Regions from separate parts of the Homo sapiens genome. Here regions 2 and 3 are each linked to region 1. Evidence: fine-mapped expression QTL. A gene starts in region 1. Each other region holds a variant in brackets. All regions are shown on one strand. Distances are between the middles of the regions. Region 1 holds the start of GNA14 (G protein subunit alpha 14). Region 2 overlaps GNA14 (G protein subunit alpha 14). Region 3 overlaps GNA14 (G protein subunit alpha 14).

Region 1 (4,242 bases):
CATAGAAGTATAAAAATGATTGACTTGTGATATCCCAGTTTTCTGTTTCTTACCAGTGGCTGATGCTCAATAACAACTTTAGGTTTTTGATTATTTTTAAATAAATTTATTTTGGATAAGTGTGAATGTCATCAAAGAAATAATGCATGTTAGAGTTGGGTGATCCTTTTGAGCTTATTCTGGCTTATCCCTCTCATCTTATAGTTAAGGAAAGTGGAGCCTAAATAATTTTATGCAAGCTGCCCCAAATTTTTTCTTTCTTTTTTTTTTTTTTTGAGACGGAGTTTGGCTCTTGTTGCCCAGGCTGGAGTGCAATGGTGTGATCTTGGCTCACCACAACCTCTGCCTTCCGGATTCAAGCAATTCTCCTGCCTCAGCCTCCCGAGTAGCTGGGATTACAGGCATGTGCCACCACACCCAACTAATTTTGTATTTTTAGTAGAGATGGGGTTTCTCCATGTTGGTCAGGCTGGCTGGTCTCGAACTCCCAACCTCAGGTGATCTGCCCGCCTCGGCCTCCCAAAGTGCTGGGATTACAGACGTGAGCCACTGCACCCAGCCCAAATTTTCTAATGAACAATGAAAATCAACCAAACAGCCATGACTCACAGCAAGCTACCTTTTTGATGTGTGTCCCTTCAGTCTCTTAAAAATGTGTATGCGTATTCTTATACTAAAATCTTATCATACTCTTTATATTTTTGGATCTTGCCTTTTTCATTCAATATATTTTGAGGATTTTCTCCAAATTTATTCACATGTTTACTACTCGCATATCCACATATTTAATGGCTCCAAAACATCTCATTGTATGGATAAACCATGATTTAAGTGATCTCTTCCCTGTTGTTAGGTATTTAGGTTGTGAGTTTTTGTTGTTGTATTGGCAATAAAACCTTTGCATCAGTCATGAGGCTTCTTTCTAGTTATTTCTTAAGGGAGAAATTACTGGTTTGGCCGAAGGGGACGGACATGTTTAAGGCTTCAGATATATACTGCCAAGCTGACTAGCCCAGGAAAGTTGTACAGATTTGCCCTAATCAATATGTTTCATAACTGTTTTTGAAATCTTGCCAACTTTAAACCTAATAGGTCAGTATCAGTAATTCCCGTTAACGTAAGAGTTCAAATTTGCCCTAGTTTTAATCATTTAAAAATTTTTTATAATTTTTAAATGATAACAATTATGATGCAACCATGACTTTGAGAAGCCAAGAGATCTTATTCTCAAATTGTAAATGAATCCGTAAGAGCTAAGAGAGAAGAAACAGGCTATTAAATGGCCAAAGATCAAATCTGAAATGTCCAGGAGTTTTCCTGTAGGGGTCACTGTTACTGTCAATTTATGCCTGCAAGAAAACTAAAATAGTCACACATTAAAGCATGTATGCACATTTTTAATGTCTGATTCCTCTACATTTCTTAAACTGTAAAATAATAAGAACATGCAGCCAGATAGCATCGCGATACCAACTTCTTTATATAATGACACGTACCATTCCACTCAATGTGCTCCTCAGTTTGAATTTATAAAATATATGCTACTCAAATGAAAGGCACTTATGCCTGCTCTTAGTAGAGGAAGCGCTAGCTAATTGCCTAACGCCCCATTAGCATATGGCCTATACTGACTTGAGAAGGAAAGAACGTTCATTGCTGTGGCCAATAGGATCCCCTCTCCCCACCTTCCCTTTTCTGCATCAAAATCTACACAGACAAAAGTCAGATGTTGTAATATGCATTTTATCGTGTCACTTAAGTACTAAGAGGTGCTTTTAAAGTTTTTATTAATGCTGCTCAAACTTGACCCCGACGGTCCAGGATACAGGCCAAGGTGTCAGTGCGGACACAATCGCAAGGCGGCTGTTAGGCTTCAGGGCTGGGCAGGAAACTTGCCAGGTGCTACTAGGAACGTATCAGCCCTTTCTACAAAGCAGGTGTCTTTCCCATCATAAAATGCAAAGCAATCAGCCGTTCCCTTTCTCCCCAGCCCCCTCGTCCGGAGACCGAGAGGATATTTACCCTGGGCTCTTGCAGTTCTCTTATAACTGAACCCAGCGGCGGCTCCTTCTCCGAGCTCAGAGCCAGCAGGCTCAGGCCCAGCCACACTTTACAGGCAAATTGCCGAGCTGACCAAGGGCTTTGGCCAAGCCCGAGCTGGGCCGGGGCGTCCGGGAAGCGGAAGGAGCCAGTCTAGGAAATCCGGGTGTGCGTGGTGGTGAAGCTGGTGGGCAAGCTTCCACTTCAGGTCCGGGGCTTTGTGTCCCGCAACAGACGCTTGGCGCCGCTCCTCTTCCAGCCTGCTGCCGCCTTCTCCGAGCGAGTGAGTTGGCGAAACTCACTCACCTGTCGGAACCCGGTGCCTGGCGGCCAGACGCGCAGATTACAGCAAACCTTGGCCGGGACGCCCCAGCCAGGGAGGCAAGTGTGGGAGCTGCTCCTAGAGGTGCCAGCTCCCACCCCCAGCTCCGCGCCCCCTGCTCGTCCCCTTTCACTTCCAGGCGCCTTCGGCTTGGGGTGCCCAGAAGGGCAAGTCCAGCAGACGCCAGGGCTGCAGGTTCAAGATGCTCCGCCTCCTCCTGCCACTTAGAGCCACAAACGCTAGCGGGAACCTTTCCACTCAGTCTTAGTCTGCGGTCACTGCTGAGGTTTTCAGAACTTTCCAGGCAAAGGCCAGCCAGGTCCTTTGCCTCCAACCCACTCCGCGCCTACCTCCCGCCTGGGGACACCCCTAGGCCCAGGAGATCCTACTCTCCCCCGAGCACCGACGTTCCAACTCGTCTGCGCCCCCGACTGCTGTCCGGCTCCTGTGCCAAGGGGCGCGCGCATCTTCCCGGGGCCAGCAACGCTCCCAACTTCTCGACTCGCCCTCCTCCTCCCCAGAGCGAGAGTGGGGCGGGCTGAGCCCGGATCCGGGGTGCACTCGAGCGTTCCCAGCGCTCGGCATTCACCCCGCCTCAGAGCCGACTTTCGAAGGGGGATTGAGCCTCGGAGGTCCAGGCGTCTTACTCCAAAGCTCAAGTCGGCCCCCGTCTTTTCTTTCCACACCCCTGTGCCCGTCGCATGCTGGCCGGGTGAGCGGCCGGGCCGAGGATTCGGGTGCCCGGGGCCGCGTCGCCCCGTCGGGTACTGAGCTGAGCGCACCATGGCCGGCTGCTGCTGCCTGTCCGCGGAGGAGAAGGAGTCGCAGCGCATCAGCGCGGAGATCGAGCGACAGCTTCGTCGGGACAAGAAGGACGCGCGCCGTGAGCTTAAGCTGCTGCTGCTGGGTGAGTGGCTGCGTCTCCGACTCCAGTGAGCCGGGCGTTTTTCTTCCGAGCCCTCCCGGCCTCTCCACTGGCACCCGCGCGGCCCTGGAGCCCAGCGGGGTGCAGGGCGGCTTCGTCCTTCTCCCCCTCGGAGCTCACGGATGCCAGCAACTTGGGGCCTTAGGTGCCTGTTCTTTCCATCTCTGGCTGGGCGACTTGCAAAAGCAACACCTTCCCCTGCCCCAAAACAGGATAGGGACCTGTAACACTTAACCTCTTGACCGCTGTACCTTATGTGTTCCGGTGTGCCCCTCTCCTCAAAACCCCGTCCACTCCTCCGCCCGCAGCACACCCAGCTTGGGGTCTGTGGTGACCCACATCTTGGGTTCAGCGCTAGCTCTGACCCGTACGCTTTCAGTTCTAGATGAAGCATCTTGAGAATTTACCATGTGCCAGATCGTGCTAAGTTCTTAAGGGCATCACCACCTGGTGATGCGGGCAGGTGATATCGCTATTCTAGAGAATTAAAACATGGAGGCCTGGAGAACTGACCAACTTGCCCTGATTGAGAAAAGGCAAAGCCGATGCTAGGTCAGCTGTGGGGGTGAAGCCCATGCCGTTGCTGCTCCTCTGACCGTGAGCTCCTATGCCTGCCTCCCATGGGGGTCCCTCAGGCCTTTGTGTTTGCAGCGGACCCAAACCTCCCTTGCCCAGCTTGACTCAGTGTGTCCACGTCCTAGGATTCAGCTTGGCTGCCCTGGTGCCTCTGGCAGGTCTTCATCCAGCTCTTTTGGTGTCTCTGCAAAGGTCTGGGTAGGACATCCACTTTCAAACACAGAAAGAACACAGTTTAAGGTTTGCCCAAGTTATGCCATGAGGCAAGGATCCCATCTCAGACTTTCTAGAACGCTGTCAACACATTTGCTGTTTGAGGAATATTTTACCTTTTCTACCTTTCAGACCATGATATCAGCTGTCAATTTTTTTCTAGATA
Region 2 (4,242 bases), 130 kb after region 1:
AGATTACTCTTGTCACTGTCCACAAAGGTGTAACTTGATGTCCTTCCTAACCCCCATGCCAGGTCAAGACCTGTGTTACATTCCCCTGCCCCCTACCGCCCCCCACCCCCAATGGGGTCTCACTCTTTTGCCCAGGCTGGAGTGCAGTGGTGCCATCTCAGCTTACTGCAACCTCCGCCTCCTAGATTCAAGTGATTCTCCCACCTTAGCTTCCCGAGTAGCCAGGACTACAGGTGCACACCACCACACCCATCTAATTTTTGTATTTTTAGTGGAGATGTGGTTTCACCATGTTGGCCAGGCTGGTCTCGAACTCCTGGCCTCAAGTGATCAGCTGCCTTGGCCTCCCAAAGTGCTGGGATTACAGGTGTGAGCCACCATGCCCGGCTGACCTGTGTTACTTTGATTATGAACACCCATCTATGACAGTTTTGCTTCCCTGCCTCCAAGTGAGTGGTATCTCTGCCACTAGAGGTTGATATGAATGACTGATAATGCCAAATAATAATTTTCACCTAGGAAACTTAGACAAGGAGACCTAACCCATAGCAATAGTAGACATTTGATAAATATTTGTTATACGAATGAAATGAATAGCACAAGCTAAGAGTGCTTTCTAAAGATTGGGCCCAAGAGAAGACAAAATGGGCAACTAGTCTGATATTACAAAGCTTCGAGGATTTAATGGTCCATTGCCTTGTGAAGGAGATCCTTGAGTAAAGGTTTCCTGGAGACCTCTAAGTCTTCAGTGACTCTCTGCTTGCGGGTCATGTACCACCTGCCCCTGTTAGTTCCCATCTCTCCCCATAGTGTGAAACTCTGTTACATGGCTGTCTCTTCCTGCTCTGGGTTTTTTTTTTTTTTTTTTTTTTTGTGAGACAGGGTCTTGCTGCGTTGCCTGGGTTGAGTGCAGTGGCATGATCATGGCTCACTGCAACCTCGACCTCCCAGGCTTAAGCAATCCTCCCACTTCAGCCTCCTAACTGGGACTACAGGTGCACACCCCCAGGCCTGGCTAATTTTTTATTTTTTTGTAAAGATGGGGTCTCCCTATGTTGCCCAGGCTGGTCTTGAACTCCTAGACACAAGTGATCCTCCTACCTTGGCCTTCCAAAGTGTTGGGATTACTGACGTGAGCCACAGAAACTGGCACCAGCTCACTCTTGAATTCCTCAAGAGCAATGCTGTATTCCTGTCTGTTTCCTCCAGCTCTCAGACAAAGGCAATGCATAAACAAACAAACAAATACCTTTTGAATTCCAGATGAACACCATTAGAAATCTCAAGTTATTATAACATAGTTTTGGCATTTTAAGGGCGGGGAACCCAATAGCAGATCAACAGCCTCTCTTTTACTATTTTTGCAAGCCTTGTGGTTTTTGGCAGCAGTGGCTGCCCGGCTCTGCCGCATGCTCATTCAGCTTCAACCACAGTGACCTCCTTTCTTTTGGTCCCTGTATTCACAATGCTCCTTCAAGCCCAGGACTTTTCCACATGCTCCTCTCTCTGCTTCCCTTTCCTCTTTGCCTGCCCACGTCTTTCTTGTCCTCCACTAGAATGGAAGATCTATGAAGGCCAAGGTCTATGCCTACTTTTCCCCACCTTTGTAGCTGCAGTGCCTGACATAGATGCAGGCCAGTTTGCCAAAAGCCTATCCACTGAAGAACTCATTCCTGGGGCAAAGGAATGTGATTTTTTTATGAGCCCATGCAGTTGACCTTAAGGCCACATTCTGGCCTTTCTTGAACGTGTCTCTCGCAGTGTCCAGCCTCATTTCCTCTCCCTATTGGATTGTGGTTTCCTGCTTCTCCCAGGCCTCACTGTCATCTCACATCCTCC[A/G]TCTGCCTGAACGTCCTGAAACTGATTTCCTTTGTACTCATAAATAGCTAACTTCATTTATTTGTCTTAAATAAGAAATCTGGGCTGGGCGCAGTGGCTCATGCCTGTAATCCCAGCACTTTGGGAGGCCGAGGTGGGCGGATCACAAGGACAGGAGATCGAGACTATCCTGGCTAACACGGTGAAACCCCGTCTCCACTAAAAATACAAAAAATTAGCCGGGCGTGGTGGCAGACGCCTGTAGTCCCAGCTACTTGGGAGGCTGAGGCAGGAGAATGGCGTGAACCCGGGAGGCGGAGCTTGCAGTGAGCCGAGATCGCACCACTGCACTCTAGCCTGGGGGACAGAGTGAGACTCTGTCTCAAAAAAAAAAAAAAAAAAAAAAATCTGATATTATAGAAGACTTTCTTTGACACCTTCTTTTTCCACCCACCCACCCTTGGGTTAGATACTCTTTCCAGTGTACCTGTAATGCCCAGTATCCTTCGTATTACATTATAATTCTTAATTTATGCATCTCTCCCACTTCAGACCAAGAGTTCTTTGATGGGGAATCATGTCGGGTTTACCTCTGCATCCCTTCGGGCTCAATAAACGTGAAGTCAATGATATTAAGACGCTGTGTGAAGACAATATTATGAACCCAAAGGTATCTGAGAGATTCATCTAGGTGGTAGTATCCACAACCTCAGAGGACGTGCTCAGCTGTTCTCCCATGGGATAGAATTTTGCCTCCTTGACTATGGGACTGTGATATCGGGCAAAAAGCAACAGGGGTCCACATGGCCATGTTTGTCTTTTTCCAAAGAAATATTTGGCCATTGGAAATATTGCTTCTGAGTTGCAAGATAACCAAAAAGCCTGGCATGGGGCCCTAAACTTAGTTTGGGAAGCTTGGGATTGGCCATGCTTAGCTCTTGGGATGTGTTTGTTGAGCTGCAAATGTACCCTTCCAGGAAAAGTTAAGTCTGTGACAATGACTTCTCAAGCAGAGACACCAGACAGCTGTTTTAGAATCCCTGAGGGCCAAAAAAAAAAAGTGCTGAAGGGAACAATGGCTTGCTTATGAACTAGGAGAGATATTCAATAGATAATACCCTTTTCATCAACCAAGTTTTAAAGAAATTGAGGATAAGACCAAACAGCAAACAATAAGGTGACCAAAATGTATTGTGGTTAATGCTGAAGTATAGAGAGCATGGCTCATAACTGGAGTGAGGACTTGTCCTAAACCCAGAATGTGGTGGACTTAGCTATAAGGTCATCATGTGTTCGGGAAGACTCAGGCCTCACCCAGCAGGGCAGTCCTGTAATGACCTGGAAGAGTGGTGCGAAAGAGAGGAAGGGGCAGAGGCCAGGAGTGTCATGCAATTGCTGTGCCTCCTCACGGAATTATTGAGTGTGTCCCCTGTGTCATAGACCCATCACAGTTGTCTCTTCCAGTACTTCGTGAGCTCCCTAAGGGCAGGGACTGTGTATACTTCTGGGCGCTAAAATGAGTGTGAATCCATGTCAGGCACTCTGTGCCAGTCTTTATTGGAAATATATGATTTTATCTTAAATAGTTCTTCAATGTAGGTACTATCACTTGCCCTGACTTTAGAGATACAGGCACTAAGGTTTGTGGAGGTAAATAACTTTCCCAAGATCACACAAGTAGCAGATGTCAGAGTGGGAAACTGAGCCCAGGAGGCCTGACGTCCCAGGCAGAGCTGCTAACTATTGTTCTGTATGCTTCTTGATGGGTGATTCAAGGCCTTGTGTAGTGTTAGGGTATCATTTAATGATCTGATTATGAAAGTGCTAAATGAGGTGATTGGGGGATTCTCTGTCTTGGATTCTCTATTCCTGGCCTTTTATAAATTCCTTTGTCCCTGGCTGGGATCCAGCTGGCTTACACAACTGTCAGTGTAATCTCTATCAATATTTACACAAGGGGTCATGCCATCAAAGAAACTAGAGAAATATCAGGATTAGTGCTTTCACTGGATAAAGTTTGAGGATTGAAGAACCTTCTGTTGAGTGGATTTGAAATAGTTGCATGGAAAATATTTTTTTATTTTCCTTGAAGAGAAGTAAACAAGCCAGAGATTATTTCAAATTTATTTTGCTAATTGAAACAAAGCATGACAGTGACCTTCGAACCAGTGCCAGTAAAAATCAAATAAAATCTGGATAGTATATTCTGAGAGTGGTCTAAATGGGATGCCTTTTAGCGGGGGTTTGTTCAAATGCTTAAATTTTTAAAAAGAACGAGGTAAAGCTATGTTTATTGATATAAAAAGATTATCAATCTATAACAGGCATGAGAGAAGTGAGGTATAGAAAGAAGTTGATGTGTTTATGAATATCCCTTTGTGTGTGTATGAGATACCTTTGATAAAGAATACATAAATAGTTACA
Region 3 (4,242 bases), 78 kb after region 1:
GATAAAAGTAACTTTCAAGCAGAGTATTAAAGTGACCTATAATCTCATTTTAGCTGAGGTAATATCACTAAATATTTAGCGTCGACAGTATATTGTTGGCTTATTAGTCATAGTTTATTTCTGCAAATCCTAATCAGCTAGTTCTATTGACCTGTGCTATCTACCTGTAATATTATCTCCATGAAGCCACAATGGAACATTTAGTAAATTATTGCTATAACTCATTAAACTATAACCCCAAAGCATTCAGAGCATCCTAATTGGATCTGGCCTGACCTGATTTAAAAATGTACAGAGTCCCCAGGAGGCACACAGACACCAAGTTTTTGCAAGATTTTCAAGGCATAGGATGATGTTTAGGCTCATTATTGCTTAATATATTTAATTTCTTTGATAGACTTGATTACCTTGGCTAATTCAAACTAATTTGTTGTATTTGTTGCTAGTTAATTTTAGTTTCTAATTGCAGATTGTGAGTCTGACATAAATATTTTTAAAAACTGGATCACAGGTCACAGATCAGTTTATTACACATTGAAACAAAGCTTCTCTTCTAAAATACCTTTTGGGGCCAATTTGGAATTTGTGTCTTTTTATGTATTCTATAAAACTATGATGGATATATGATATTTCCTTTCATTTTATGAAAGAAAGGAGAAAAAAGAAATGTCTAAAGGTAGGACTGACCCAAGAAAGGAAGAATGGAAGATTTGTCTGGATAAGTTTTTGGATATTATTTCTCAGTCTACATAATTCCATTGATGCATTTTATAATTCTTCTTCCCTACGTGTTAGGTCTCTGTTTCTTTCCTTAGATCTTTTCTTGGAAAACACTTTTGTTGTCACTGTGATTGCCCTTCTTTTAGTTCCTTATAACTCACAGGCCAAAAAATCATCCACTGTCAATAAAGACAAACTTGTAATTTGCAAGATTACTTGACTTTTCTTCTTAACCTGGGAATTTTTCATGGGCCTTTCTATTCACCCTGTTCAGAGTTCTCCCCAAATCCTTGGTCTCAGCCACCACTCTCTTTCAGTTGCTCCTCAATTGAAATCGCTAGAAACCAACATTTACACAATGTAAATACACTGAAGTGAAAACACAGATTCTCTTATGAGCAGCCAGTTGGTGGAAAAAAAAAGATGAAATTAATTTTAGTAATATATGTTTATTTAACCCAATATATCAAAAAAATTATCATTTCAACATACACTTAATATAAAAATTAATGAGATATTTTACACTCTTAAAAATAATAAGTCCTTAAATGCCTGTGTATTCACAGCACTTAACCTTTTTTTTTTTTTTTGAAGGCAGAGGTTTGCTCTTGTTGCCCAGGCTGGAGTCAAGCGATTCTCCTGCCTCAGCCTCTCGAGTAGCTGGTATTACAGGCATATGCCACCAAGCTTGGCTAATTTTGTATTTTTAGTAGAGACAGGGTTTCTCCATGTTGGTCAGGCTGGTCTTGAACTCCTGACCTCATGTGATCTGCCCGCCTCGGCTTCCCAAAGCACTTCCCTTTTTAATGATAAGTTTTTGAAATCTGGTGTGTATTTACAGTACTTCCCAAACCAAACTAGCCACATTTCAAGTGCTCAACAGCCACATGTGGTTAGTAGGCACCATATTGGATGACATAGTCTTAGAGCATTGATTTAAGATATTCTTCCATACACTACAAATAAGACCCTCTTAAATCCCACTTATCCCAAAATATCTTCAAGATTTCCTCTGTCAAAATTTAACTCCAACCCCTCCACAGTACTTAGAAAAATTCCTCTTATTGAGAACTTATCTCAGCCTTACTTGTGTTCAAATATTTATATATTTATCTGTCTCAGAGATTATGAACTCATAGAAGGTACATATTATCCTTTGCTCATCTTTGAACAATAGCATAAGAGTGTGGAGGAAAATTGGATTTTGACAGATAACTGACTCAGGTTTAAATGCTACTACTAGCACCATGCAGTTGTGGTAGCTATACAATTCTAGCCCATTTTTTGAACCTCAGTTTTCTCATCTATAAAATAATACCTCTATCATAGAGTA[C/A]ATGAGCATTAAGTAAGGTATGCCTAGCACTTAGTTGGGTCTCAGTAAATAACTTATTATATTGAATGTAAAAGGGCAATTTACTCTATTAAATATGCACATAGATTATAAGTTGTACTCTTATTTCAGAAACATTAAAATTTGAGAGCTCAGATATTTCCAGTGGGAATGTAAAATGATACATCGACTTTAGAAAACACTGTGGTAATTCCACAAAAGGTTAAACATGGAGCTACCATACGACCCAGCAAGGTTACTCCTAGGTATACACCTAAAGAATTGAAACATATATCCACACAAAACTTGTACATGAATGTGCATAGCAGCATTATCCATAGTAGCCAAAGAGTGGAAACAACCCAAATGTCTATAATCTGATGAAAAAATAAACAAAATGTGTGGAATAGCCATAATAGAATATTATTTGGCAATAAAAAATGAAGTACTGATGCACGCTACCAGATAAATAAACCTAAAAAAATTATGTGAATAAAGGAAGCCAGTTATGCATGCAAAAAACACATATATTGCATGATTCCACATATGAAATGCCCAGAATAGGCAAATCTAAAGAGACAAAGTAGATTAGTGTTGCCTGGGCTGCAGTGGTGGGGGCAAGGAGTCACTGCTAATGGGTAAAAAGTTTCTTTTGGGGTTTCTTTCTTTAAAACATGATAAGATGTTCTAAAATGAGATTGTGGTGATGCTTGCACAACTCAGTAAATATATTAAAAACCATTGAATTGTACACATTAAATGGGTAAACTTGATAGTATGTTGATTATATTTCAATAAAGCTGTTAAAATTGGGGGAAATGGTGTTAGAATTAAGTTAATATATATTTATTTGTTTAGTTTAAAGTTAACTTCCTCCAACAAACAATAATGACAAAAATTAATCGAAATACAATTCTTGGTCCTAAAATGTGTGGACATTTTCGCTTCCATGATTTTTGCGTGGTGGCTCATGCCTGTAATCCCAGCACTTTGGGAGGCCGAGGCAAGCGGATCACGAGGTCAAGAGTTCGAGATCAGACTGACCAACACAGTGAAACCCCGTCTCTACTAAAAATACAAAAATTAGCCAGACATGGTGGCACACGCCTGTAATCCCAGCTGTTGGGGAGGCTGAGGCAGGAGAATTGCTTGAAACTGGAAGGCAGAGGTTGCAGTGAGCCAAGATTGTGCCACAGCACTCCTGCCTGGGTGAAAGAGCGAAACTCCGTCTTAAAAAAAAAAAAAAGAAAGAAAGGAAAAGAAAAACATATCCCTACTACCCTCCTCCAAGAGGAGATGGCTCTCTCTTTCACTTTACAGGGGCAGACACAGCCCCTGAAATATTGAACCCGGGGGAGAAACCAAAGCCCCCACATAGCCTGGGCTCTTTCTTCTTTCCACCTTAATTCCTCCCTGGAGCAGCCCCTGTTGGTGGAACTCACTATACCGAGTGGTCTCCTGTGGAGTTGTCTCCCTCTGACCGTTTTGTAAGCTCCTGGGGAGCAGGAGCTGTGTCCATCTTGTTCACAGCCATTTCACAGTTCCCAACACATAGTAGGTCCTCGGGAAACTTGTTGGGCAGGACAGTTCTGGCCCCTCCAGCACTGGAGAGGAGTAGCTGCAGCACATCCAGCAGTATTTTCCTTCTTGAGTTACCAAGTTTGGCCAAATGCCAATGATCTCTCTGCCTATACTGCTGTGCTAATAGGACTGCATCCCCCTGCCCCCCTTGCTAGTTACCATGTCACAACCAGGATCAAGGGAAGAGCATGCTTGAAACATATATTAATAGCAAGAGTAAGTTCAACACACCTTCTGCGGGGAGGGAACCTTTTTTTCCCAACCCCATTTAAAAAAAAAAAAGGCAAAAGAGATTCATGAGGCTGGAGATTCAGTTTAAAATGCATCTGGGGTGGCGGAGCTCTTTAACAGAATAAGAGAAGGCACATATGGGACTTGGGTTTCTCATCAAAGCTGGGCTAAATAGAAAGCTCTTTCTGCCTGGGCATTGAAAAACTTGTCTGATTTGGAGATCCACCTGAAAATATCGAGTAGCAGAGACACCTGCTGATCTCAGACGTGGCATGACAGTCTCTTTCCAAATTGCATCCCATTAGGGGTTTCTGAAGTGCGACTTTACTGTCTCAATTGTATCTTTGCTCCCTCCACAAGACCAGCTGAAGGGGGTTTGC

Evidence for each region. PIP is the estimated chance that this variant, and not a neighbour inherited with it, causes the effect.
Region 2: its variant is the best candidate, but not a certain one, in a credible set for the expression of GNA14 in tibial nerve (GTEx, PIP 0.80).
Region 3: its variant is the best candidate, but not a certain one, in a credible set for the expression of GNA14 in nasal epithelium (TOPMed, PIP 0.82).

The regions. Positions count from the first base shown.
Region 1 is chr9:77,646,697-77,650,938 of GRCh38, reverse strand. GNA14 (G protein subunit alpha 14) reads left to right here and starts at 2,617. Exons shown (of 7, transcript NM_004297.4): 1 at 2,617-3,269. The coding sequence starts at 3,146.
Region 2 is chr9:77,512,592-77,516,833 of GRCh38, reverse strand. The region is part of intron 2 of GNA14 (G protein subunit alpha 14); the gene reads left to right. All of the region lies in intron 2 of GNA14-AS1 (GNA14 antisense RNA 1), which reads right to left. Among named protein-coding and RNA genes, the nearest start is that of GNA14-AS1, 67 kb to the right of the region's middle. The variant A/G (reference allele first, on the strand shown) is at 1,840.
Region 3 is chr9:77,568,825-77,573,066 of GRCh38, reverse strand. The region is part of intron 1 of GNA14 (G protein subunit alpha 14); the gene reads left to right. Among named protein-coding and RNA genes, the nearest start is that of GNA14, 77 kb to the left of the region's middle. The variant C/A (reference allele first, on the strand shown) is at 2,054.